Linked DNA regions of Homo sapiens. The protein of the gene in region 1 interacts with the protein of each later gene in a biochemical or structural test. Each region holds a gene or a part of one and is shown in the gene's direction. Other genes may lie near its edges. The genes, in order: PTPRC, LGALS1, CD2 and LYN.

Region 1 (7,031 bases):
ACTCCAGGTATTTACCAAAGAGGAAACATGACAAAGCAGATGCATTCATAGTAGCCAAAACCTGGAAACAGCCCAAATGTGTATTCACTGTTGAATCCTAGGTAAAATGTGGTGTATCTTTACAATAACTACTGATAATTTTTTAAAATTCTAACTATGACACATGCAACTAAGTGAATGAATCTTCAGAACATTACATTGAGTGCAATATGTTAGGAGTGAAAAAGTACTTACTGTTTGTTTCATTTTATTTACATGCAATGGGTAAAAAGACAAACTTAATCTGTAGTTAACAGAAAGTTGATCAGAAGGTACGTGAGTCTGGTCAAAGGAGCTGAGTTGACTGGGAAGTACCACAGAAGGACATTTTGGGATCACAGAAATTTTCTTTATCTTGATTGTGGTGTTGGTTATGTGGATGTATACATTTGTTAAAAATGCATTAAACTGTATCTCAAATGGGTACATTTTAATGTAAATTTTACTTCAGACATTTTATTTAAACATTTATCAGTTTTTCTCAGTTTCAAATGACTAGTTACTGGAAGCAATGACAAGTGCTACTCAATGACTGCTAAATTTATTGGTGCTATGAATGCCAGATTTTTAGCACAGCAAAATCTACAAATTCCAGGATTTTTAGGTAGTATCTGGGCAAGAATATATATGAATAATGTATATGAAAGGAAGAGGGGGTTCTTAGATATCTTCAAGTCAGTGGAATGCTTAGGTTTCACAGTGCCAATCTGGTGTGACATTTACTTTGTTAAAGGAATTTACTCTAAAACAAATTAAATGAGCCCAGATGCATTTCTTTAAATTTTATTTTGAATTCATCATTTGTCAAAATATGGTTATCAATAATGCATGCTTATAATATGAAGAATGCTTTATCCATGTCTTATTTTTCATATTACATAACATTCTTATTCTTTTAACAGGTCCAGGAGAGCCTCAGATTATTTTTTGTAGAAGTGAAGCTGCACATCAAGGAGTAATTACCTGGAATCCCCCTCAAAGATCATTTCATAATTTTACCCTCTGTTATATAAAAGAGACAGGTAATTTGTGTAGAATTTAATTTCATCAGAAAAGAGAAATCAAGAATTTGAAAGTACTAGAAATTTTTATTGAGCCAGTGAGTCACAAAGCTCTCTGCTTAGAGACTGCATAGGCATAGTATACTCCCTGATCTTAGAATTGCTTCCACTCATTCAAAGCTTTCCAGCCCCAGAAATGACTAAAATCCAGAACATTCTAAATATTTGCTTGTCCTTCTTGGTCTTAGTTTAAATCTTTGTGCTCCAAAGCCTAGAGACAGAAAACCTCTGGATGACAACACTCATTTCTGTCTTGCAAGTATTATGTAAGTGATTTGACTCACTTTGAACTCATCATTCAGCCTCCTAAACAAACCAACAAACAAGCAAACCCCTTGTAAAACTTGTTTCAGCTAATAATACAGACAAAATGTTGGGTGAATAAAAATGAACATGGGCCCATGTAGCCGCTGGGGCCAGTTTGGTGTAATCTTGGGAGCATAGTTCTAAGTTTAGAATTAGACTTCTGCAGAAGTAATGCAATTAAAAAAAAAAAGAAGAAGAAAGAAATGTGCTATGACTAGTTCACTCATGAAATGTTCAAATGAGATGCTATTTAAGAGAACAAATATCTTCTGGACAATTTAAAGTATCTAAATTGTTTGTAGAAAGTAACATCAGTGGAGTATCTCAGAGCAGCCTCAATGCCTGGGATAGCCCTTTCTCTATTCTTTTATCCATAGGTTAAAATAGGAATGAAGTGAACCTCATAGAATTCTGTCACTCTGTGCTGTGGGGAAGGAACCAGACATACACTTCAAAACTTGAAAAGTGAAAGGCTATTTTTCTTCATTATGTTATTTTATATTTTAATGGCCTTTTCTTGCTAGTGTCTTTAGGTCTTAATAATCAGACTACTAAAGCAAAGTTAAATATGCATGTAGTTTTCAAATTAACATTCAAAGGCCAAGGAAAATAAATATATACTATATATTTGAGGTTATGATAAATTTAAAAGTTAAGTCTATGTGGAAGGAAAAATGGAAATTCCAGGAAGATAAAACAGCAGAGGTACTGTCTGCCTCATTGGACACCTCTTTTACAAACACTTTGTGTAGCTTCTATGGGAACACATTGTTCATTTTTTTTTTCTCTTCTCTGAATCTTCTATTCACTATCCCTTTCTGCATTCCTCAATGTCTACACTCTCTCTACTAGAGAGTATTGTCGATGTCAGAGTATATGGTAGACATTTTATGCATTTATGGCTCTTTTATATTTTTACAGTTTTTTTAAACTGTATTTCCACTGTATTTGCATAATTAGGGTAAAAAGGATGTAATGAGTTAGTAGCAACTCATTACAGCAACTAGCATGGGTCCTTCTTATTGGGCAACTAAATAGTGTTACCCAAATTTAACAGCTGTCCACATAGAACACTTAAACGGGATTGAATGGCTGAGAAGGGGAGGCTAGCTATCAGGCTGTGTGTTTTCTTTTCTCCAAAGCTGCCGATTGGTGACTGAATGCAGCTTTGGACCATGCCCTGACACTGCATAAAGGGCTCTTTGGAGCCAGCTCTACTCTAAACAGCGTGCTCCGCTTTTGTTTTCTCCTTCATCTCAAACATATACCTGTCTCCTCTCCCATGTTACCTAAGGCAAAGAGAGTTGATAGGATTATAGTATCGTTAAGGCAACTTAACTTTTCTCACCATTTTAAATAAAATTACTATTAAAAATCCACAGGAAGAAAGTCTATGAAATTTGCAGTTTACTTTTTAATCAGATATTAAATTTCACTTCATTACTTCACAATTTAATTTTTTCAGTGTCTCTAAAAGAGAGGGATTAAAAGAGGAGAAAAAATGCAATTGACATTAATTTAGTTTTATTGGTTTAGCAGGTTTTTTTAATTATGTATTATTTAAAGATTTTATCAACTATTTTAATAACTCAGTGGAGATGTGCATACATATCTTCATAGTTCATATGATGAAACTGAGGTTAACAGAAAATGTGATAGATGTTCAAGTTCAGTAGCTTGATCTGTTTCCTTTCTGCTCTTGGTTTTGTTTGTTTGTTTGTTTGAGAGGGAGTCTCCCTCTGTCGCCCAGGCTGGAGTGCAGTCATGCGATCTCGGCTCACTGCAAGCTCCGCCTCCCAGGTTCACGCCATTCTCCCGCCTCAGCCTCCCTAGTAGCTGGGACTACAGGCGCCCGCCACCACGCCCGGCTAATTTTTTTGTATTTTTAGTAGAGACGGGGTTTCACTGTGTTAGCCAGGATAGTCTGGATCTCCTGATCTCGTGTGATCCGATCCGCCCGCCTCGGCCTCCCAAAGTGTGTTTGTTTATTTTTCCTCACATTTTTAGCTTAAGATATTTTGGAGAACTGCAGTTTTATCTCGTTAACTTAATGATGGCAAGTGACAGTGAAGCTTCTTGGTAATTGGGGAATTGGGGAAGAGATCTTTTGTGCTTTATTGGATTTAAAGGATTATTTTTCAAAAGTTACTGAAAGCAATAGGCACCTTTCAAGACCACCATGATGTTGCTGGAAATTATTTTGTGTAATGCCTTTTATTTTTTTAAGAAAAAAAAAACAGAACAAATTGCTTAATCTCTCTGTGGCTCAGTTTTGTCATCTGTAAAATCAGATGATAGTGAGTACCAACTAATAGTTGCAGTGATGGTTAAATTAATTATTTCATGTATACCCCTTGAAACAGTGCTTGGCACATACAGTGAGTTATTATTTTTAAAAATCGTTATTGATATTATTATTACTGTTGCTGCTATCCAGAAACATGTTGCCACTCTAATCATCCTCTTTCCTGATGTCACTTGGCTACTCAAAAATAGCAGCAGCTGGTGATTTTTTTACTTAACAAGTGCTAAGTCTTCTGCCTGAGTGTGAAAACACACTTAGACACTGTCCTACCTCTCATATGCCTCCCCAGCCAGAGCTGTTGTCCTGATCAGGTTTGTCACTAAACTCAAAAACATTCCTTCTTCCGTTTGTAATATTTTCTTTTCTCCCTTACATGTATTCAGTTCCACTTACCTTTCAATGAACAGCTGAATTCCACTTCCGGCATGAAACTCCCTCATTCTCACAGCTCCCGTTAATTACTGTAGTGTCCAAATTACTATGATAGAATCAACCCAATGACTGATGATCAAATGGATTCTGCATCTAACATTCAAAACAGTAGCTAATACCGATGTTCAAAGTTTGGAGGTTACATATCAGAAAAGGTTTTCTAAAAAAGAATCATTCTGAAACATGCAACTCAAGACTTACAGTATACACTGGGGGCTGTGTTTTCTCAGAAACAAAAGAGATCGTCTTCACAAATGAATCTGAACTTATTAAATATTTTATGTACCAAATTAATGATATAAAACCATAATTTTTCAATATTTAATTTTACCAATGATAATTGAGTTTGTTCAATACACTGGCTGATAATTGTAGGTACTTTTGAGTATCAAGGATGTACTTATTTTTCAATCACTCAATAGTTTGGAGTTCACTTGGAACAATGTGATGTAGAGACCAAATTAATTAGGTACGTGGTAGTACTGACTTTTAACGACTTACTAATTTTTTTTCACATTTTTCCTCAGAAAAAGATTGCCTCAATCTGGATAAAAACCTGATCAAATATGATTTGCAAAATTTAAAACCTTATACGAAATATGTTTTATCATTACATGCCTACATCATTGCAAAAGTGCAACGTAATGGAAGTGCTGCAATGTGTCATTTCACAACTAAAAGTGCTCGTAAGTTATATGTTTTAATGCTTCTTTCCATAAATGGTAAAAAGCAAGGTATGAACTTTTTAGCCTACAATATTTCTATCTTTATTCTAGCAAGCACATTTACCTGGCACATTTGTTAACATCTAGGGCTTATAAACACGTAAAATCTAAAAGTTTAAAAACCGTTATCCTGGATTCTCTCTCTTCTTCAGATATAGTCATAGAATTTTAAGGACAAAGCATAAAAGCATCTTAATTGGCATCAGTTTGTGCAATTTCATGCAGTTAAGTACTTAACCAACTTAGATTAAAACATTCACTGTTTGCTGTTGTCTTTACTATCTGGAAATATTAATTGTAATCAGAAACCTAACAATGTCTCATAAAGCATTAGCCTACTAACCTCTGTTCATCTGATAAAACATTTCATAAAATGTAATATTTTATTAGCATTTTCTTCTCTTCGTTACCCTCAACTACTTACTATTCTATTTTATGTCACATTATCCATTTAAGGTTTCCTTTCAATGGCATTTGGCTCTTGCCACTAGTATAATCTCTCCATAGTTTCCAGGCCCAAAGTTAGATCTGCTTCTGGGGCACATGTTAACCTCCATCGAGGACAGGGAAGAAGAAATGCCGTGTTTTAAGGCAGCATCTATAGCTCCAGAGACCCTAACGGGCACTAGACTTGTGAAGAAATATTGTGCTATTTGGGGCTGAATATAAGACACTTTTAAGGTCATTTAGGTTTTGGTTTGAAAAGTTCTGGTCCTGGAGCTCTATGCTTTTGTTGTTTTCCTGAGTTTCTGTATCACAGAAAAAGAAGACAATTTGTTTCTGTTCCTGAAGAACCCATCTAGGTGTTTACCAGGATAACATTAGCACTCCGGGAAAGAAGGGTCTAGATTGTGTAATAGGACTTGGAGGTTTCCCAATCAACAACATTTTTCCTCTCCTCTCCCCAAACTTCCCCCTCTTCCCCACTCCCTTCCCTTTTTCTCTATTCTCTAATTCTACACAGTCTCCTTCAGGGATTGCAATAACTCTCATGGCTTCATGTACAACCTATATGCTAATACTTACTGAATAAATGAGTGATTTATTCTTCAGGGTTTTGATATTGTTTTTTAATTTATGTACTATCATAACTTCCTTATTTATAACCCCCAAGCTAACACTTAAAATACTTTATACTATATCCAAGTATTGTCAAGTAATTTACATATGCATCTATTAAATTATTAATAACAAATCTTTCTTCATTTTGATAGCTCCAAGCCAGGTCTGGAACATGACTGTCTCCATGACATCAGATAATAGTATGCATGTCAAGTGTAGGCCTCCCAGGGACCGTAATGGCCCCCATGAACGTTACCATTTGGAAGTTGAAGCTGGAAATACTCTGGTTAGAAATGAGTCGCATAAGAATTGCGATTTCCGTGTAAAAGATCTTCAATATTCAACAGACTACACTTTTAAGGTAAAAGTATGCTCTCTACATTACTATAGTACCAACTACATTATAATGATTGATTCATAGTACTTAAATAACTTTAAGACCACTGCTCACATGAGATTGAGAAGCTCTGATGTGTAATGGAATCACACTTAAAGAGTCTCAAATATTTGACTCTAAAATTTTTATTCCTATAGCTCAAGTCAGTGGTTTAAAGCAAATGTTTCATTGGAATATTTTAGAACTTCAATATGACTTAATTATAGCTAAATTATTGCTTCTGTGTTAAGAAGCACAACACTTTATGCACAACAGATTATTACTTTACCAAATCTACCTTTTCTTTACTTTGGCTTTTTATCTTTATTAATGTGGAATTTTTCAATTGCAAAATTTCACAGGTACCTTGAGGTTAGGAAATATTTGAAATAAACACTAGACAATACTAGTGAGCATACAGAATTTAAAACACTCATTATCTCACTGTCTACTGATCGTATTTTGTACATGTAACTTCATAATATACACATTTATATGCACTTAACACGTATTATCAACATTCTGAGTACACAGTTTTCAAAATACAGTTTTAAAACTGTATTTTTAATATATCACTATATCACACACACCTTTCTATGTTAAATATTTAACTACTATGTAGTTTTTAATGCCTGTATAATATTCTATGTATGGCTTTATCACATTCTATTAACTATAACTATGTTGGTCTCTAATATAAACAACATTCCGATAACACACTTATT
Region 2 (7,191 bases), on another chromosome or scaffold:
TCCCTGGCTGGAGCACCCAGGTTGGCTGCGGGTGTGGATGGCGCCTCTGTGGGCCGCCCTCCTTCAGCACCGCCAGCTGAAGGAGGTACAGCTTCCCTTTCCCCGCCTCTGCCCCCTGTCCCTGGCAGGGCGGGAATGACCGAGCTGGCCTGGATGACTTGTCTAGACCAAGCTGAGCCCATTTCTCATGGCAGCAGCCAAGATCCAGCCCAGGACAAAGGAATTCCAGAGAGCTCACTGCCTCTATTTCAGGACAGTTATAACGTGGGGAGGAGAATCCCTGGGGTGGTGGCCTTAGCCTGGGGGATGCAGGAGGGAGCACTAACATCGAGCCCCTCCTTAGACATCACTCCTATCATCCTCCAAGCAGTGGCCTTATTCCCATCTTCCAGGCCTGGAAACGGGTTCAGAGAAGCCAAGGACCTCAGCTACAGCTGCAGCCACTCAGCCCCCAAACCAGAACTCACCACTCGTCTCATCTCCTGATTCTTTTTTTTTTTTTTTGTGATGGAGTCTTGCTCTGTCACCCAGGCTGGAGTACAGTGGCACTATCTCGGCTCACTGCAACCTCCATCTCCTGTATTCAAGCAATTCTCCCTGCCTCAGCCTCCTGAGTAGCTGGGGTTGCAGGCACCCGCCACCACACTCAGCTAATTTTTGTATTTTTAGTAGAGATGGGGTTTTGCCATGTTAGCCAGGCTGGTCTCGAACTCCTGTCCTCAGGTGATCCACCCACCTCAGCCTCCCAAAGTGCTGGGATTACAGGCATGAGCCACCGTGCCCGGCCTCTTCTGATTCTAACTGCAGCTTCATTTCCCTGTGCAGAAATTCAACCAAGTTGGCAGACACAAAGTAGGGGCGAGGGGAAGATGAGAGGGGAGATAATGAAAGCAAGGCGCCGGGCACAGGGCCTGGCAAGATAAGTGGGCGCTGCCACTAGGAGGCCCTGAGGACTAGGGGGAGGAGGCCCACGATGCACCTGTGTCCCTGCCTTCCCTCCCCGCCAGGAAAACCGCAGCTCCTGTCACAGGGGACACTGGAATCTGGAGAGACTTCTTGCCCCAACCTCGGCAAGAGGAGACTGTTGGGGACCTGTTGGGCATGACATGTAGACCTCCCAGAGGTGCTGCAAAGACCTAGGGAAGGTAACAGCCTGGGAAGAGACAAGAAGGAAGTGAAAACCTTCTGAGCCTCCATGAAAACACGAATCATCTGTTTAGTACAACAGACCTCAGTTCCACCCTGTATTCACCTCGTGCAAGGAAAGCAGGATTTCATCTCCCCAATTTACAGATAGGGAGACTGAGGCAAGTGGGAGAAGCAGCTTGCCAGGAGGCTCTGAGGGGACATAGCAAGCAGGGCCAGCACCCGCGTGTCTAGACTCCCAAATAGGCCTTTCTAGGGACCTCTTCACCATGCCACCCTGCCTCCCTGCCAGCCCCACTCATGCCAGACGCTGCAGAGGAGTAAATTGTCCCTCCATCCAACAGCAAACAGTCCCTGATGCCGGGCCCATTTTCCAGGGTGGAGGAGGATGCAGGAGCAGCTCCTGAGGCTACAAGAACCCAATTATTGGGCTGGGCTGGGAAAGTGGCCACACCCACCCGCCCGCAGCCCGGCGAGGACCACACCTGAAGCGCCTCTGACCCTCGGTCTAGGACTCCGCCTGAGATGCCCCATTCCTTGATCTGGCAGAGAGGGGAGGCATGGGGGAGGGGCAGTGGAACTAGGCTGGGCCCCATCCAGCCCTTCCTATGGTTGAGGTTTTGGGGAGGCCCGGAGGAAAAAGTGAAGCTGCTGTGGTTGGTTTCCAAGCAGCCACTTGGTCTGGAAGGAGGGGTAAGGCACTCACAGGGGTGCAACCCCATCCCCTCTCTGGGTCCGCCTTGCGGCCCTACACACTCCCCTCTCATCCTGTACCAGAGTGGGCTTTGGGCATCTGGAGGAAGGTGCCCCTGAGAGGCAGGGTGGGTGTGTTGGCCTGGCTTCCAGATGTGAGTCACTCCTGGTCCGCATCTTCGTCCCTCTTTGGTGCCAGCAGTTTCAGAAGGGGGACGGCCAGGTGGAGAAGGAGGTCCCCGTGACAACCCCCCAGCATGCCCCTCATTTTGCCCAGTGCTCCCCACGCCCCTTCCTCCACCAGGTTCCTGAGTGTAAGGTGAGCACCCCTCCCACCCACCCTCAATTCTCTGCCACAGTGATCTTCCCTAGAGCCCAAATCTGGCCTCAGTACTCACCCTCCCTCTAGCCCTGGCTCCCCAGCCTCCTCCCATACAACAATGTCCAAGCCCTGTGCCCAGCCCATGAGGCCCTCCATGGTCCAGGTCCTGTTGGCTTCCCAGCCTCATCCCCGTTTTTCCCCCACATGCCCGGAACACTGTTCTCCAGCCCTGGCCTTCTCATTCTGGAGCTTCTGCCCATGGTGGAAAGCCAGGCACTTCTCCGCCTACCCTTCACGACCCACCTCCTTTACTCATGCAGCCGCCAGCCCACCATAGCACTTTCTCATGGCTTCCCTTACAGCCATCATCATCTACTTCTTTTTATTTTTATTTTTATTTTTTATTTTTTTTAATTGAGACTGAGTTTCACTCTTATTGCCCAGGCTGGAGTGCAATAGACTGATCTCGGATCACTGCAACCTCTGCCTCCTGGGTTCAAGCGATTCTCCTGCCTCAGCCTCAGGAGTAGCAGGGATTACAGGCATATGCCACCATGCCCAGCTAATTTTGTATTTTTAGTAGAGATGGGGTTTCTCCGTGTTGGTCAGGCTAGTCTCGAACTCCTAACCTTAGGTGATCCGCCCGCCTCGGCTTCCTAAAGAGCTGGGATTACCGGCGTGAGCCACTGCGCCCAGCCCATCATCTACTTCTTAACGTGGTTGTGGTCAGATTCCACCCCAACTATGCGCTCCTTGAGAGTGGGGACTGGGAGGGGTTCAGCTTTGAATCCTCAGAGCCCAGGGCCAGGTACATAGTAGGTGCTCAGTAAAATACCTGCTGAACACTCAGGGAAGGGAGGGCTGTGCCGGGCCTCAGAGGAGATGTTAAGAGAGCAGACAGGGTGGCCAGGCATGGTGGCTCACACCTGTAATCCCATTACTTTGGGAGGCTGAGGCGGGTGGATCAACTGAGGTCAGGAGTTTGAGACCAGCCTGGCCAACGTGGTGAAACCCCGTCTCTACTAAAAGTACATAAATTAGCCGGGTGTGGTGGTGGGGGCCTGTAGTCCCAGCTACTCGGGAGGCTGAGGCAGGAGAATCAGTTGAACCTGGGAGGCAGAGGTTGCAGTGAGCTGAGATCACGCCACTGCACTCCAGCCTGGGCGACAGAGCGAGACTCCATCTCAAAAATAAATATATAAATAAATAAAAATAAAAAAGAGAAAGGACAGGGTGCACAGAGCCAGGACCCCACCCCCTCCTGGTCTGGACCACCCTGGGCCATCTCCTAAGCTTGACACTCTCAGGCCTGAGGCTGTCAGGCCAGGGCGCTTTGACTATCCCCTGCCTGCCCCTGAACGCGGCCAAGCCCGAGGCCTTAGCCAAGCCCTGCAGCCTCAGGCTTGGCGCCCGGCCCAGCCTTTCTTTAGCCTTCCCGAGGAGCCAGCGAGAGAGCGCTGCAGCAGCCGCAGTCCTTGCTTCCGGGGAAGGCCCGGGTGGGGCCAGGGCCTGTGGTTAAGTCAGTGGCCCTCTGCAGACGCGCACGCAGCAGGAGCCACGCCCTGGTCCCTGCCCGGGAGTGGCCTGGTCTCCCCCAGCTCTGATTCCCTGAAGGACCCTGCACCTCCTCAGCCATCTTCTCTGGGCACCCCCTGAGCCCAGCCTGCTGGCCACAGGCCCCTTCCCGCCAACTTGTGGGCCTAGCTCATCATCAAACTATTTTCCACTGGCTTCCCCCAATCTCTGCCACAGCACAATTTTGGTGGGGAGGTGGAGAGGGATGAAGGAGAATAGGAGGTGGAGCTTGGACTCTGGCCGGGGGCGGCGGGGTGAGGGGGGGCAGCAGCTCGCCACTCTGATTGGTCACCTCTGCTCCAAAACTGGCTTCAAAATTCCACGGACTCCGCCCCCAGTGGCCCCCAGCCCTATCCTGACTTGCAATTGGCTGAACTTTCAGGGGGCGGGGCTCACCCGGTCCGGTCCAGTTAAAAGGGTGGGAGCGTCCGGGGGCCCATCTCTCTCGGGTGGAGTCTTCTGACAGCTGGTGCGCCTGCCCGGGAACATCCTCCTGGACTCAATCATGGCTTGTGTGAGTGTGGGGACCCCCCCCCAAGGTCCAGGGGATAGGGCAGGAACTGATGGCCAGAGGAGAGCTGGGCAGATCGGGAGCAGATTCTAGCCCCAGCTGTGTGGCCTGGAACCAGTGCCTTCTCTTTTCTGGACCTCAGTGGCCACATCTGTAAAATGGGGGTGGGCGCCATGGTCCCTCAAGGCCTTCTCTGCATTGATAATTGTCTGGATTCCTCCAGGGTCTGAAAGCACAGTTATTTCTGCCCAGGGTTGACATTCTGCAGCTCTCTGAGAAGTGAGCGTGGGAAGGGTGTGGCCAACTGGGGGACACCCAGGCCACTATCCCTTTCCCCCTCCTCCACCCCAAAGAGCCTCCTGTCCCCTCCCCCCTGCAGCTGTCCCGGTCACCAGGCCAGGGCAGAGTTACCCTCTGCTCCAGAGAACGCTGAAAAGTTGCCAGGACCCGAGACAAGCTGCCCAGGATGGGCCCTTCTAGGTCGGGGGTGGAGGGTGGTTGTGTCCAGGCTGGTGGCGGGGGGGGCGGGGGAAATTCCCTTCCACCACCCCCAAGCTGGGAGGTTGGGGTGGCAGGGAGGTGAGAATCTTCCTCGGGCCCCAGGGAAAGGGTTCAAGTTTCTGGCAGAAGAAACCACTCAAACCAGTTAACTCTTGCCCACCCACTCGGGGTGCCAGGGAACAGCAGTGCCCAGCAGTTTGCTCAATCTTGTTAACCCTGAGCCAGCCCAGCCACAGCCCGACTGCAGGGCTATTCTCCCTAATGCAGAGAGGCCGTGTTTTTCAGGGTCTCCTCTCTAGCCCCTGGGCCTCTTTGCAGAGAGGGGCTTGAAGGAGAATAGTGGGGTCGCCCGCCCCTAGCCACTTCCTCTCCAGCAGAGGGGCCGGCCCCTCCATTCAGTGTGACGGTGGGCCAAGTGTCGGCCCCTCCCCAGCCTGATCCTCTCCATCTGCGATGGGACAGAGCACCCCATCTCCCAAGTCACTCTTGAGTCCAAAATTCCCAAGCCAATCTGCAAAATCTTCTAGAGCCTGTCTTCTAGAACCTTCACGTTACAGACTGAAGCCAACCCCGGTGGGAATAGGGACTTTCCCAGGACCACATAGACAATCGGAGGCTGGAAATTACAGCTCAATCCTTTCCCCAGGCTTCCCCTTGGCTTGGTCAGAGGATGCCGGGCGGGAACAACCCCACTCCCACCCCCAGCCACCCCCGGACACTTCGAGCAGTGGAGGCCTTGTCCTCTAACCCGGCTGGGCCGGGGCTTGTCTGTGCAGGGTCTGGTCGCCAGCAACCTGAATCTCAAACCTGGAGAGTGCCTTCGAGTGCGAGGCGAGGTGGCTCCTGACGCTAAGAGGTGAGAAGTGAAGTCGGGGTGGTGGGCGGCAGGGACGGGCTTGGTCCAGCAGGGAGGGCGTGGCCGGCCAAGCCCACATCTCCTCCCTGGCCGGGAGCGGGTTAACGGCCAGCCGCCGATGCTGCGTTTTCTGGGTGACTCACTTCCCCCGCAGGGTCTGGGCGCCCCCACCGTTGCCGCCCCCTCCCCCGCTCCCTCCCTGCTGTAGCCTCTTAAACTAAACCAGCTGCAGCCTCGTCATCTGTAATACCTTGACTCCCCCGCCCCCACCCCTTTCCGGTCTGGGCGGGACCTGTCGCTGGGGAGGGCGGGGAGAGGAGTGGGGCGGGCGTCACCGCCGCCTTCCCCCTGAGTCCCTCCTTCCTGCGTCTGGTCATTCATTCATTCACTGGCTCAGTCCGGTCCTTCTTCCTTCACTTCTCATTCACTCAGACGGCTGCCTTATTTTCTCGGCAGTTAGGTGACCTTGGACCAGTCAACCAACCTCACCTAGCCTCAGTTTGTTAGAAAAACAAGGGGGGAGGTGGTTGTGTGGAGGAAGTGAGATGCGGCTGGCGCAGTGACAGTGAGGAGGATGAGGATCAGCTGATATTGTTAAGAGCCGCACACTTCTCATGCACTAATTTCATTTCAACCAAACCCTCAGAGGCAGGTATTGCTATTATCACCACTCAACAAATGTATTTATTATTTTATTTATTTATTTATTATTTTATTATTTTATTTATTTATTTTTTGAGACACAGTCTCACCCTGTCGCCCAGGCTGGAGTGCAATGGCGTGATCTCGGCTCACCACAACCTCCGCCTCCCGGGTTCAAACGATTCTCCGGCTTCAGCCTCCTGAGTAGCCGGGATTACAGGGGCCCACCACAACGCCCAGCTAATTTATGTACTTTTAGTAGAGACGGGGTTTCACCATGTTGGCCAGGCTGGTCTCGAACTCCTGACCTCATGATCTGCCCGCTCGCCTCGGCCTCCCAAAGTGCTGGGGTTACAGGCATGAGCCACCGTGCCCGGGAGTATTATTATTATTATTTGTTAATTCGCCCCATAATTACTAAGCATCTTTTTCTGGTGTGCCCCACTTGTGCTGGGCACCGGGAATACAGAGATGTACAAGACAGGACGGGAGGTCACCATCTGGAGGGAGTCACTGACCTTGACCAAACGGGCTAGGATGCTAATGACTTCAAGAATCAAGCGAGCCCTCCTGTGCAGCCCCCATTGTACAGATGAGCAAACAGGGGAAGAGGGGCAGGAGCAGGTGGCATGGCCAGAGCTAGAATCCAGGTTTCTTGTCTCTGTTAGTGAGTTCTTCCAGCAAGGTGCGTTCATGGGATACTGAGTGACAGATTAGTCGGTCAGTGGGGCTGGAGCTGGCCGAGGTGGCCTCATGCCCACCCGTTACCCCCCAGCTTCGTGCTGAACCTGGGCAAAGACAGCAACAACCTGTGCCTGCACTTCAACCCTCGCTTCAACGCCCACGGCGACGCCAACACCATCGTGTGCAACAGCAAGGACGGCGGGGCCTGGGGGACCGAGCAGCGGGAGGCTGTCTTTCCCTTCCAGCCTGGAAGTGTTGCAG
Region 3 (5,331 bases), about 82 Mb from region 1:
AGTAATGGGCTCTCTGCCTGGACCCCTCCCAGCCATCCCACTTCTCTTCCTTTTGCAGAGAAAGGTCTGGACATCTATCTCATCATTGGCATATGTGGAGGAGGCAGCCTCTTGATGGTCTTTGTGGCACTGCTCGTTTTCTATATCACCAAAAGGAAAAAACAGAGGAGTCGGAGAAATGGTAAGCTCCCCCTCTTTTGTCCCACCGCAGGCCCCAGCAAAATCCCCATGAAACAGCTCATGGGGATGACACCTTGAATCTGCAGAGAAAATGATGGAAATAGGTAGTTTCGGAATGTCAGGGTTGTAGTCAGCGGTTATAGCTTGTTTCATTTTGTGGTTAGCTTGATTTTTGAAAAACAAATTCTTAGTGGTGACAATGTGGGAGCTTTGAGACACTGAATCCAGTTGGCCTCATTGGAATCCACCACTGAGGCCTACTTGGTGACAGGCTAATGTGAACATCTTTTGAATGAGCCACACTTCTCTACATAGGCAGAAAGGTTAGCTCCAAAACACCGTTTCTAGGAATAAATGTCCTATCTATGGGTGGCCCAAGGTGAGTTCAGGACCAAGCTCCTAGAAACACAGGGAAAATCATTCAGGTCATCAGGTAGTCACAGGAAAACAGCTGTTCTAAAGCAGGGTGCCTGTGCCCCCTTTGCTAATTCTCTGTTCGAGGGATGTGTTAGGGTTGAGAGTTTTTCCTCAGATCAGGCCTGTCTGACAATCTATCAGCAATGAAAAGGTTATGCTTGCAAGTGGGGAGCCGGCTTAGGGAGCATCCAGGCCACCCAAGGCAGAACACTTCAGAGAATGGCCAACCCGGGGTCACTGTGGGGGGCACAGATGAGGGTGTCAGCCATTGGCGGGACTTGCAGCCAAGGGAACAGGCCCTGGGGTTCTCTGCAATTCACGTTCACAGCAGGACTTGGTCTCTCCCTAGAACCGGCAGGCACAGCCACACCAGCTGCTTCCAGTGCTGCCCAGGGAGGTGGTCCAAACTTCCCCAGGCACCGGTGGCCTTGGGCCCCGTGCCCTCTGGATTTGGCTTCTTTACCTCAGATTTCTTCCTCAGTTCTCCTTCTGCCTCCCCATCAGGCTGCGGTCCCTCAGCCCCACGTCCCATCACGTCACTACCCCCAGCCCAGGCCCCGAAACATCATCCTGAACTTAGTCCCATTCTTCCCACCACGACTGTCCCACACTTTCCACCACAGCACAGCAGAATCGCTGGCAGGGCCCTTAGGCATGCCTGGCTTATCCTCCTCTGTGCCCAGCTCTGGCTGTTCTCCATGCTCCTCTCCATGCTCCTTCTCCATTGACTAATGGTCAAAGACCATATCTTCTTCCAAGGTGGACCTCACTTGTCACCCCAAGACAAGGCAATCTCTGCCATCACCAGGCTGAGAAGAATGATGGTTAGCTCATGCTGATAAAAAAGTCGTTAGTCTCTGTGTTTTATGTCTATTAGTGCATCCAGCTTTCAGAGTGATCTTAGGAGATAGATAACAACACAGATGAGGAAGCTTAAGTTCAGTGAGGTTCAATTATTTGCCTTAAATCCTATGGCCAGTAGGTTGACTCAGGCCTAGGCCGAGGCAAGGAGCCCAGAATTTAAGGCATAGAATTTAAGGAGGCTGGCCTGCCCTTGCACAACCTGAAAGTTGGTGTGTCTTTAAACTGCATGCCTGTCAGCCTCGCTTGCCTCATTCCAGTCATGCCCTGGGTTGAGTAACCAGGAGATGCAAACAAGGGAGAAGGACAATGAGCCTGGAGGAATTCCTGGGAGCACACATTTAGGCGCCAGCTGCAGCTGCTGGAGTGGGTAGGCTGAGGACCCACTGTCCTGCTTGAACCAGGCAGGGTGCACAGAGCCGTAGCCAACCTTGTCTGTCCAACCCTGCCTGCAGTCTCAGCCATGTGGCTACACCCCATTCCTCCTACCAGAGCTCATGTGCCTCTGTCTACACTTTCTGGTGGCCCTGGGCTCTTCACAGAAATTGACATTGCGATTTTCAGTTCTTGTTTGCCTCTTACTTGATTTTAGGCTTCCTGAGGACAATTTGTGTCTAAGTCACAATGACACTTAACACTTGGAAGATGAGGAATAAATGTTGGAAGGACAAATGAACCAAATGGTGTATGGGCCAAGTGTGGTGGCTCATATCTGTAATCTCAGCACTTTGGGAGGCCGAGGCAGGAGGATCATTTGAGCTCAGGAGTTTGGGACCAGCCTGGGCAATATAGTGAGACCTGGTCTCTACTTTAAAAAAAAAACTTAAAAATTAGGTGGGTGCATTGGTGTATGCCTGTAGTCCCAGCTAGTCAGGAGGCTGAGGTGGGTGAATCATTTCAGCCCGGGAGATCAAGAATGCAGTGAGATACGATCACACACTGCACTCCAGTCTGGGCAACAGAGCAAGGCCCTGTCTCAAAAAAACAAAACAAATAAAAAACAAAAATAGTGGGTGAACAGAGTAGTAAACCAATGGCCAGTGCAAGCTTGCCACATAGGAGATGAAGAAGGACCACCCACTGCCCCATAATTCAGAACTAGGGCCAGGGGTTAGAGCCCTCTCCACAGTCTACTGGACATAACCTAAGCAATGACTGCAGGGCACGGAAGATGGCATAGAGGATGTGTTTTGTCCTTTCTGGAGGCCCTTTCCTCTTTGTGCTTAGAGCACACGAGCCATTTAGGTATCAAAATCACATTGTCTAACTTTGACTCTACACTCAAAGCCATCTGATGCTCACATTTCATGTAGTCAGAGGAGGCCATCTGGTTTGAATCAACATCCGGAAGTTACAGGGTGATGCTTAGAGAGGGCTTGTGCTTCCCCAGCCACACATCTCCATAAAGATGTAAGAGGTAATTATTTCAGCTGGGTGCGGTGGCTCATACCTGTAATCCCAGCACTTTGGGAGGCCAAGGCAGGCAGATCACCTGGTCGGGAGTTCGAGACCAGCCTGACCAACATGGAGAAACGCCATCTCTACTAAAAATACAATATTAGCCGGGCGTGGTGGTGAACGCCTGTAATCCCAGCTACTCAGGAGGCCGAGGCAGGAGAATTGTTTGAACCTGGGAGGCAGAGGCTGCAGTGAGCCAAGATCGCACCATTGCACTCTAGCCTGGGCAACAAGAGTGAAACTTCAACTCAAAAAAAAAAAAAAAAAGAGGTAATTATTTCACCCCAGGGAAAAACTTCTCTTCCTACCTCCCTCTGGAGCCACTGCAAAGACGGCCTTGGGTGCAGGGACTGAAATACCTAACTTACAGCCTAAAGGAGTCCAGAGGGGCCAGCAGGGTGCTCCAGGCCTCTAGCAGCTGGGCACCTTCACAGATTCCCTGTGATTTTAAGAGTACAGGAAAAACTACATTACGAGTAGCTGTAGGCCTGCTTTCATGGACTGAAGTCACACAAAGAAGAAAATCCTGAAGGGTGAGGAGAGGAGGAGTTCTTTCCCTCCTAAGGCCAAGAACATAGGTCTTGAATTTCTGAGAAGCGAGTAAATTTCTAAGGACAAAAAGTTCCTTGCATGTGTTCCAACCTCTTGCCGGAAGGTGGATTGCATGACAGTAGAATTGGGGGAAAGGCAGATCTAACATAGAAATGCCTCAGAAGGAATGTAGTTACTAATATCCTCCATGACTGCTCATAACCCCTTCCCATGCGCTCTAACCATGAGGTTCTTGCTCTCAGGGAACAATTTCTAGGTCAGCACAGAGGTAGGGTTCCAGGTCTGCGTGCTCTCTCTGATCATGGGAGCCCCAGGCACAAAGCCCTCCACCCATGTGTCTTCTTCCTGCTGATTCCTTGAGTTCTCTTGTCCTAGGCTTTCACTCTACCTTATGGTGAGCACTTCTTTCTCTCCTACAAGCTTAGAGTTCTCAGATAGTAGGGGCAACTTCTGCTTCCTCATTGCATCCCCCAAAGCAGCTAGCATGGCGCCTTGCATATAAAAGGTACTCAATATTTACATTGATTTCACCTGGCCAAGATGAACTCTATTGAGGTTTTGTTGTTGCAGATGAGGAGCTGGAGACAAGAGCCCACAGAGTAGCTACTGAAGAAAGGGGCCGGAAGCCCCACCAAATTCCAGCTTCAACCCCTCAGAATCCAGCAACTTCCCAACATCCTCCTCCACCACCTGGTCATCGTTCCCAGGCACCTAGTCATCGTCCCCCGCCTCCTGGACACCGTGTTCAGCACCAGCCTCAGAAGAGGCCTCCTGCTCCGTCGGGCACACAAGTTCACCAGCAGAAAGGCCCGCCCCTCCCCAGACCTCGAGTTCAGCCAAAACCTCCCCATGGGGCAGCAGAAAACTCATTGTCCCCTTCCTCTAATTAAAAAAGATAGAAACTGTCTTTTTCAATAAAAAGCACTGTGGATTTCTGCCCTCCTGATGTGCATATCCGTACTTCCATGAGGTGTTTTCTGTGTGCAGAACATTGTCACCTCCTGAGGCTGTGGGCCACAGCCACCTCTGCATCTTCGAACTCAGCCATGTGGTCAACATCTGGAGTTTTTGGTCTCCTCAGAGAGCTCCATCACACCAGTAAGGAGAAGCAATATAAGTGTGATTGCAAGAATGGTAGAGGACCGAGCACAGAAATCTTAGAGATTTCTTGTCCCCTCTCAGGTCATGTGTAGATGCGATAAATCAAGTGATTGGTGTGCCTGGGTCTCACTACAAGCAGCCTATCTGCTTAAGAGACTCTGGAGTTTCTTATGTGCCCTGGTGGACACTTGCCCACCATCCTGTGAGTAAAAGTGAAATAAAAGCTTTGACTAGACCCGTGTCTGCTCATTGTGTGAAGGATCCCAGTGTCGAGGAGAGGAAGCTGCCGAATAAGAAAGAGCCTCGCTGGTGTGACAGCAGGATCAAATTCAGTCAACTCAATCCGGCTGAGACCTCCTTAGTCCTCACCAGAATGACCCGAACATGCTCCCCAGGTCTCAGCTGCAAAGCTGGGTCCAACAACCTATTTGTAGATTTCCATAATGAATTAAAGCCTCCATGCACAAACGTTAACAGGAGTCACCAGAAAACTTAACATTTTAGGTCTTACTTTCTTGACTGTTCAGACACGGTCATAATGACCTGTACTGTCATCCTTCAAAACAAGGGAATCTATGGATACTGGAGGTGTCATGAACTCATCAGATGACATACAAAAAGATAGGCTAAGAGACAACTCAGTTGAATCAAATCTTAAGTGTCTTAAATGACTATGATTAAAAGGTCAGACCCCATCCCCAGCTAGCAGTCATGCAGCTGTACTTTGAGGGAAGTGGGGAGAAAAAAATAGTTTTCAGTTAG
Region 4 (7,031 bases), on another chromosome or scaffold:
GAGGCTGGGACAGAGTCAGCTATGACCGCTCAATTGCTGCTGTCTCATCTGGGCTCCTGTAACCAACTCTGGTCTGTTTGAGCCAGGCATCGTGGTTCTATCGCCAAAAGCCTACTGTGTTATAATCGTACACTCCTTTCTTTCACACATGCTCAGCCTGATCTTCGCTCTCCACTTTTCCCAGTTTTACTGGCTTTTTCTAACAAGTCTTGTTGAACTTGGGTTACCAGCAGACAAAAGGAAACAGAGGCAGGGCTCCTCTCTCCCAGCCGCCACCAAAATTGCCACCCCGTGTCATCTGTTTCAGTAGTGCCCACTCTAGAAGGAGCTATCCTGAACTTCCTGACGCCCTCACCATGCCACTGCCTGCTGTTTCTGGGCAGCAGAGGCTTCCTAGAGAAAGTCAGACTCAGGAGCTCTGCCTTCACCTGGTTATCACCACTGCCCACCTTCTGTTGACTTCCCATCAAGGCTGTTTGAATCTTTTCCAGGGTCAGGTAAAAGCTGTGCATCTCCCCAGTGCTCAGGGTTTGTGACAGTTGGGAGAAAGGCAGGGGACACGAAGTCACTGCTCTCCAAACCTGCCCTGTCCTTTTCCTACTGTCCGTCTGGTTTCTGCTCCACTCAGCCTCTGTCCCACTTCTCAAGTCCCTCATGAAATGAAGCCTCCTGCTGTGCTTAGTGCTGTGCTGTGCTCAGTGCTGGGATGGGTTCATGTTCCTGCAGAAATTGTGGACAGGTAGTCAGGTGAGGAGCAGGGAGCACTGGGGATGCATGCACACCTGGCAGGAGAGGGTATGCCAGGCATGGCTTCCGGGAGAAGTAAAATCTCAGCTGAGACAGGCAAACTGCATAGGTCGGGTGAAAGGGGCAGGGAGGGAATGAGCGTTCCACACAGAGGCAGGGGGTGTAGAAGCACAAAGGAGGGGGTCGTGGTGAGGAGGTGGAGGGCTGAGCCGGGGCCGGGTCATACGGGGCCTTGGCAGCAGTGCAAAGGAGCTTGGACCACATTCTTTGTTTCCACTCGGAAGTGAAATACTGGACTGAATAGTCTTTGAGACTGATGTAGGCCACACTGATTATTTTACTTGAGATTTTTGTGACCATGAGAATATCATCTGCCAAATCCCTGTAGTAGTGGGCTAACAAGATAGTATTCTGGTCATGTGAAAACCCCAGCCCATTTCCCAAAGGACTTACTTTGTCTCTGATAAGAGGTTTGGTGACAAGTTTGAAGGCTCCAATGTATACAAGTGAGAATAGAAAAGATATTTTCAGCCCTAGAGGTGTTTATCAACTGGCTAACATGACACCACTGAGAGCATTAAACAGCATAAAAATAATGACAAAGCTGTGATCAGCAGCTGCAGATGGTTTTTGTACACATTGACCATCTAGGGTGAGTAAAGGGGAGTTCAGGGAAGGCCCACGGGGCAGAAGGTGAGGCCAGGGATTGGCCTAGAGGGGAAGCAAAGGCAGACCCAATACCAAGGAGCTAATCTTTTGCTAAGCAACGTGGTCTGGAACTGGCGGCCTGAAGTGCTTGATTACCAGGGATACTGTTGCAGATGACTGGGGAAAGTCAGATCCTCCAAGCCGAGCCACCTGCAATTCAAGGTAGAATCTGGCAGAATACATTCATTCCTGTGTGAAAAATTCGAATCAGAGTTTTCTCTAACTGCTTACCAGATAAACTACTACTTGGCTTTCTTTACTTCTTGCCCTTTTTCTTGCTTCTTACTTCCCTCCTTTCCTCCTCTCTCCTTGTTTCCTTCCTTCCTTCATTTCCTTGTTCCTTCCTTCTTTCCTTGCTTGCTTTCTTCCATCCTTCCTTCCCTCCTTCCTTTCCTTTCTTCCTTCCTTCTCCTTAACTTTATAATTTGGTAATGTCTTCCTTAAAAACCTGACTTTGGAACGATACTACACTTTCTATTCAGCAACGAGTAGTAGTTTTGCCTCCCTATGTTATTGTTGTGTTTAAATCCTGGATTCTTTCCTGCTGTCATACTTTGTCATGAGAGTGAATCTTGCCGGGCGTGGTGGCTCATGCCTGTAATTTCAGCACTTTGGGAGGCTGAGGTGAGTGGATCACCTGAGGCCAGGAATTTGAGACCAGCCTGATGAAACCCCATCTCTACTAAAAATACAAAAACTAGCATGGTGAAACCCCGTCTGTACTAAAAATACAAAAATTCGCCAGGCATGGTGGTGCGTGCCTGTAATCCCAGCTACTCGGGAGGCTGAGGAAGGAGAATCACTTGAACCTAGGAGGCGGGAGGTTGCAGTGAGCTGAGATCATGCTACTGCACTCCAGCCTGGGGGAGACAGTGAGACTGTCTCAAAAAAAAAAAAAAAAGAGTGAATCTTTGTGATTGTCCTGGAGGGAATGTGCAGAGAGAACTTGGAGAGCCAGTTCCATGGGCTGTTGATTAACCTGACAGAAACGACATCCTGTTCTTGATACCTTAATAATTTATTTGTATTAGCATGTCACTTTCTCCAACTCTATTTTCATAGTTGGTTCAGGCTGCCATAATAAAATTCCATAGACTGGGTGGCTTAAACGAGAGACATTTATTTCCCACAGTTTAGGGGCAAGGAAAGCCCTGGCAGGTTTCATGTCTGATGAGGGGCCATTTCCTGGTTCATAGATGGCACCATATAGCTGTGTCCTCACGTGGTGGAAGGGGCAAGGCAGCTCTCTGGGGTCTCTTTTACAAGGGCACTAATCCCATTCGTGAGGGCTCCACCGTCCTGATCTAATCACCTGCCAAGGCCCTGCCTCCTAATACTATTGCCTCGGGGTTCAGGATTGCAACATTTGAACTTTGGGGTAGGGGGCGGGGAATGGGACACAAACATTCAGACCATAGCATCTGTTTTCTGATTTGAGAAACTGGCATAATAACATCTATGTATCTACATGGATGAATTTAGCAGGGTCTTGAAAAGATTCTTCACACATTAGAAAATGTTAAGACATGGCCAGGCGCGGTGGCTCACGCCTGTAATCCCAGCACTTTGGGAGGCCAAGGCGGGCGGATCACGAGGTCAGGAGATCGAGACCATCCTGGCTAACATGGTGAAACCCCGTCTCTACTAAAAATACAAAAAATTAGCCGGGCATGGTGGTGGGTGCCTGTAGTCCCAGCTACTCGGGAGGCTGAGGCAGGAGAATGGTGTGAACCCAGGAGGTGGAGCTTGCAGTGAGCCAAGATAGCGCCACTGCACTCCGGCCTGGGTGAAAGAGCGAGACTCCGTCTCAAGAAAAAAAAAGAAAATGTTAAGACATGTTCCTTTTTTTTTTTTTAAGATGACCATTGTTGGAGATTTGGCAGAGGGTGGTCAGTTATTTTAGAAAGGGCTCAAATGGTGATTGCCATTACCCACTGTCTTTAAAAGCTGAATGATCAAAATAGTATACATGAAAAGATTTCAGGAATTCATAAGTTTTCCGGTTTTCCTTGATGGCACTTTCCAGTCACCTACCCTACATATGAAAATGGGAGCCTATTTCTGTTTTCAGATTGCAGAGGGAATGGCATACATCGAGCGGAAGAACTACATTCACCGGGACCTGCGAGCAGCTAATGTTCTGGTCTCCGAGTCACTCATGTGCAAAATTGCAGATTTTGGCCTTGCTAGAGTAATTGAAGATAATGAGTACACAGCAAGGGAAGGTATGTTGCACTAATGATCTTTAGATGTTTTATTATTGTGTTTTATTTTGTTTTTGTCTGTTTTTGACAAAGCAATTACAATAGTCACCATTAAGAAAAACTTATTTGGTACAACATTTAAGCTGTACCATAATTGTCTGCTTATGGTTCTATTCTAATAGTTTCTAGAAGGTACTCTCTTGATTAACTCCACATGATACTTTTGTTAGGCTTACAAATGCTATCAGTTGTATTTCAATTAAGCAATGCAAAACACAAATAGATTCAGCAAGATGATTCTTGTTTATTTTGTATTGTTAAAGTTTTCACTCAAACAATGAATATAATATACGGGGCTGTGGAGAAAATATTTGTAACATTAATTCTATATTGTTTATTCCAGCCTTTTAATTACAAATTAAAACATGAACATTACCATACACACAGAACTAAATATAATGCAAAAAATCTACTTCTTTATTTTCCCACATTCTGTATTATATATATGAACCAAAAATGCACAGAGAGGCCTAAGTTCCCCAGCCTGTGGCACATTGTCAGGGGGCCAAGCATGGTCGGGACTGCAGGGCCTTTCTTGGGCTAGGATTGCCCACGTGGTTATGACTGAGGATTCTTATGCTCTCACCCACGAGAGCTGAGCAAATATTTTTGCAGTGCTCACTGTCTTCTGGAAGAGACAAGCACTTTCTTGAAATTCCTAAGCATTGTTGAACAAGGATTATTATTATTTTATTATTTTGAACCTGGGAGGTGAAGGTTGCAGTGAGCCGAGATCGCATCATTACATTCCAGCCTGGGTGACAAGAGTGAAACTCCGCCTCAAAAAAAGAAAAGAAAAGAAAGTATGGGGTCACATGTTCATGACTTTTTTGTTTAAGTTTAAATACCCAAGTAAGAACCACATATCTTCTTCCTTAGGTGCTAAGTTCCCTATTAAGTGGACGGCTCCAGAAGCAATCAACTTTGGATGTTTCACTATTAAGTCTGATGTGTGGTCCTTTGGAATCCTCCTATACGAAATTGTCACCTATGGGAAAATTCCCTACCCAGGTATGGTTTACTTAGCTATTTACAATCAAGCTGTATAAATGAGAAAAAGTCAGGTTGCATGAAGGCATTAAAAAGTAATAATTACTTCATCTACCCGATAGCAAAGAATAAGTGCTTTGAGCCAGAACTTGATTTTCACGGGCTGGGCATGGTGGCTCACGCCTGTAATCCCAGCACTTTGGGAGGCCGAGGCAGGTGGATCACCTGAGGTCGGGAGTTGGAGACCAGACTGACCAACATGGAGAAACCCCGTCTCTACTAAAATTACAAAATTAGCCAGGCATGGTGACGCATGCCTGTAATCCCAGCTACTCGGGAGGCTGAGACAGGAGAATTGCTTGAACCCGGGAGGTGGAGGTTGCAGTGAGCTGAGATCGCGCCATTCCACTCCAGCCTACACGACAGAGTGAGACTCCATCTCGAAACAAAAAAAAGACTTGATTTTTATTTTCACTATCTTTAGCATAAATTGTTCTAAGAGTGCTTAGACACTTCTTTGCCTCCTTATTTTGAGTGTGTGTTCTTGTTCTGCACTGATTAATTCCACCACATACTAGAATGTTCCGGGCATGGTTGTTGGTGTCGAGATGAGGATGGATAGACACAGGGGCTCCTCCAAGGCAGTCCCCCTGACTGGAAGGAGGAAACCCACATGGAGACAAGGATTTCCGATGCTTGGTTTTGTAATAAGTGCCCTGGAGTCTCTCTCTCTTCAAGAAATAACCACCTTTGTTTATCAGTGGGAGGCCCTTCTGCTCTTTAACATACTGGTATCAGTGAGGGCATCATTCAGTATTTATTTCCAGATTCCTAACACCTGAAGCCTGCAGAGCCAGATTCTGACCATCCCTCCATTTTTCCATGGTCTGTGCTGGCATGGTTAAGAAGAGGGATTTCGGCCAGGTGCAGTGGCTTACACCTGTAATCCCAGCACTTTGGGAGGCTGAGGTGGGTGAATCACGAGGTCAGGAGTTCGAGACCAGCCTGGCCAACATGGTGAAACCCCGTCATTACTAAAAATACAAAAAATTAGCTGGGCGTAGTGGTGGGCATCTGTAATCCCACCTACTTGGGAGGCTGAGGCAGGAGAATCACTTCAACCTGGGAAGCACAGGTTGCAGTGAGCCGAGACTGCACCCCTGCACTCTAGCCATGGCGACAGAGTGAGACTCTGTCTCAAAAAAAAAAAAAAAAAAAAAAAAAAAAGAGGGATTTCTCCCAGAGCCTTCATATTTTCATTTATGTTTGACTATTAACAAAATATTTGCATGAGGGGAATTTAAAATTAAATTTTTAATGTTTAAATCTTTCTCCTATTCAAAAAATATTTGAGTATGCTAGGCACTCTCAGCTGCTAGGATGCCATGGTATCTGCCCATGTCCTTGAGAGTGAATATTGTAGTGGGGAGAGACTGATGTTTATCAAACACACAGCCATCCTGTAGGGTGGTGAGAGTAGTGTGGAGCCTGCGTGGAGTGGCTTAGGGATTGGCGAGTACTCACAGAAGGGGGTGGGGAGCTGCTGGTTTTATTCCATGGTCCTGGCAGCAGCAGGGACTCACAGAGGGAGGGAGTCTTGGGCTCTCTGAGGTCTGCATGTCCCCATGGGGAGAGCAGCCAGAGCATGGGCTTGGCCAACAGGAGCAGGAGGCCAGCGTGGTTTGGGCCTCTGTGAGTATTTGATGGATGGATGGGTGAATGAATGAATGAATGAATGACGCACCTAGGCCATTTGATCTCTAGACAGTCGATGGATGAGAAAGAAGGCTATGTAGCTGGGGGTTAGAGTGGCTCAGGGAGAGACTTACTGGCCATGTAAGAGCAGCCCCTCTTACTCTGCTGAGATGCAAACCAGGGAAGGCTTTTGGACAGAGCAGCCACACAGTCTGCGTGCTCCCATCACTACTGTTTCATGTGGGGATGAGCCACAGAGAAACTGGGGCAGGGACCAGTTGGCAGCTGAAAGCCTTTGGGTGGTGTCTGCCTGCACAGTGGACCGGCTGTCCCAGGAAATCCCTTTAGTGCCAGCATTTCATCTTCCAGCTGCTCTAGACACTGAGATTAATGAATTAACATTGCTGCAAAATAGGAAAAATATTTCTAATCAGCCCCAGTGTCTGATGTTATATATCTCTATCTCCATCTATGCCTACATCTCTTTCTATAATCTGTCTGTAGAGAAAGATTATATAGTCAGATTATGTATATAATCTGACACCTGATAAACATACAATCTCATAAAAGAATGTTTTGTGATATGCGTGGTGTGCTGCATGTGATGTGCTACCATGGCCCCTGAGG

The links.
Region 2: the proteins of PTPRC (region 1) and LGALS1 form a complex in vitro, tested with the Homo sapiens proteins (one study listed by IntAct).
Region 3: the proteins of PTPRC (region 1) and CD2 form a complex in vitro, tested with the Homo sapiens proteins (one study listed by BioGRID).
Region 4: the proteins of PTPRC (region 1) and LYN form a complex in vitro, tested with the Homo sapiens proteins (one study listed by BioGRID).

What each region holds. Positions count from the first base shown.
Region 1 is NC_000001.11:198,712,012-198,719,042, forward strand, and holds part of PTPRC (receptor-type tyrosine-protein phosphatase C isoform 1 precursor), read left to right. Parts: intron 1-941; coding exon 942-1,061; intron 1,062-4,670; coding exon 4,671-4,829; intron 4,830-6,082; coding exon 6,083-6,291; intron 6,292-7,031. UniProt on the Homo sapiens protein: Protein tyrosine-protein phosphatase required for T-cell activation through the antigen receptor. Acts as a positive regulator of T-cell coactivation upon binding to DPP4.
Region 2 is NC_000022.11:37,671,462-37,678,652, forward strand, and holds the start of LGALS1 (galectin-1), read left to right. Parts: upstream 1-4,174; 5' UTR 4,175-4,241; coding exon 4,242-4,250; intron 4,251-5,524; coding exon 5,525-5,604; intron 5,605-7,021; coding exon 7,022-7,191. UniProt on the Homo sapiens protein: Lectin that binds beta-galactoside and a wide array of complex carbohydrates. Plays a role in regulating apoptosis, cell proliferation and cell differentiation. Inhibits CD45 protein phosphatase activity and therefore the dephosphorylation of Lyn kinase.
Region 3 is NC_000001.11:116,764,426-116,769,756, forward strand, and holds the end of CD2 (T-cell surface antigen CD2 isoform 2 precursor), read left to right. Parts: coding exon of another isoform or gene 1-58; coding exon 59-181; intron 182-4,038; coding exon 4,039-4,358; 3' UTR 4,359-4,804; downstream 4,805-5,331. UniProt on the Homo sapiens protein: CD2 interacts with lymphocyte function-associated antigen CD58 (LFA-3) and CD48/BCM1 to mediate adhesion between T-cells and other cell types. CD2 is implicated in the triggering of T-cells, the cytoplasmic domain is implicated in the signaling function.
Region 4 is NC_000008.11:55,994,820-56,001,850, forward strand, and holds part of LYN (tyrosine-protein kinase Lyn), read left to right. Parts: intron 1-3,526; coding exon 3,527-3,680; intron 3,681-4,598; coding exon 4,599-4,730; intron 4,731-7,031. UniProt on the Homo sapiens protein: Non-receptor tyrosine-protein kinase that transmits signals from cell surface receptors and plays an important role in the regulation of innate and adaptive immune responses, hematopoiesis, responses to growth factors and cytokines, integrin signaling, but also responses to DNA damage and genotoxic agents.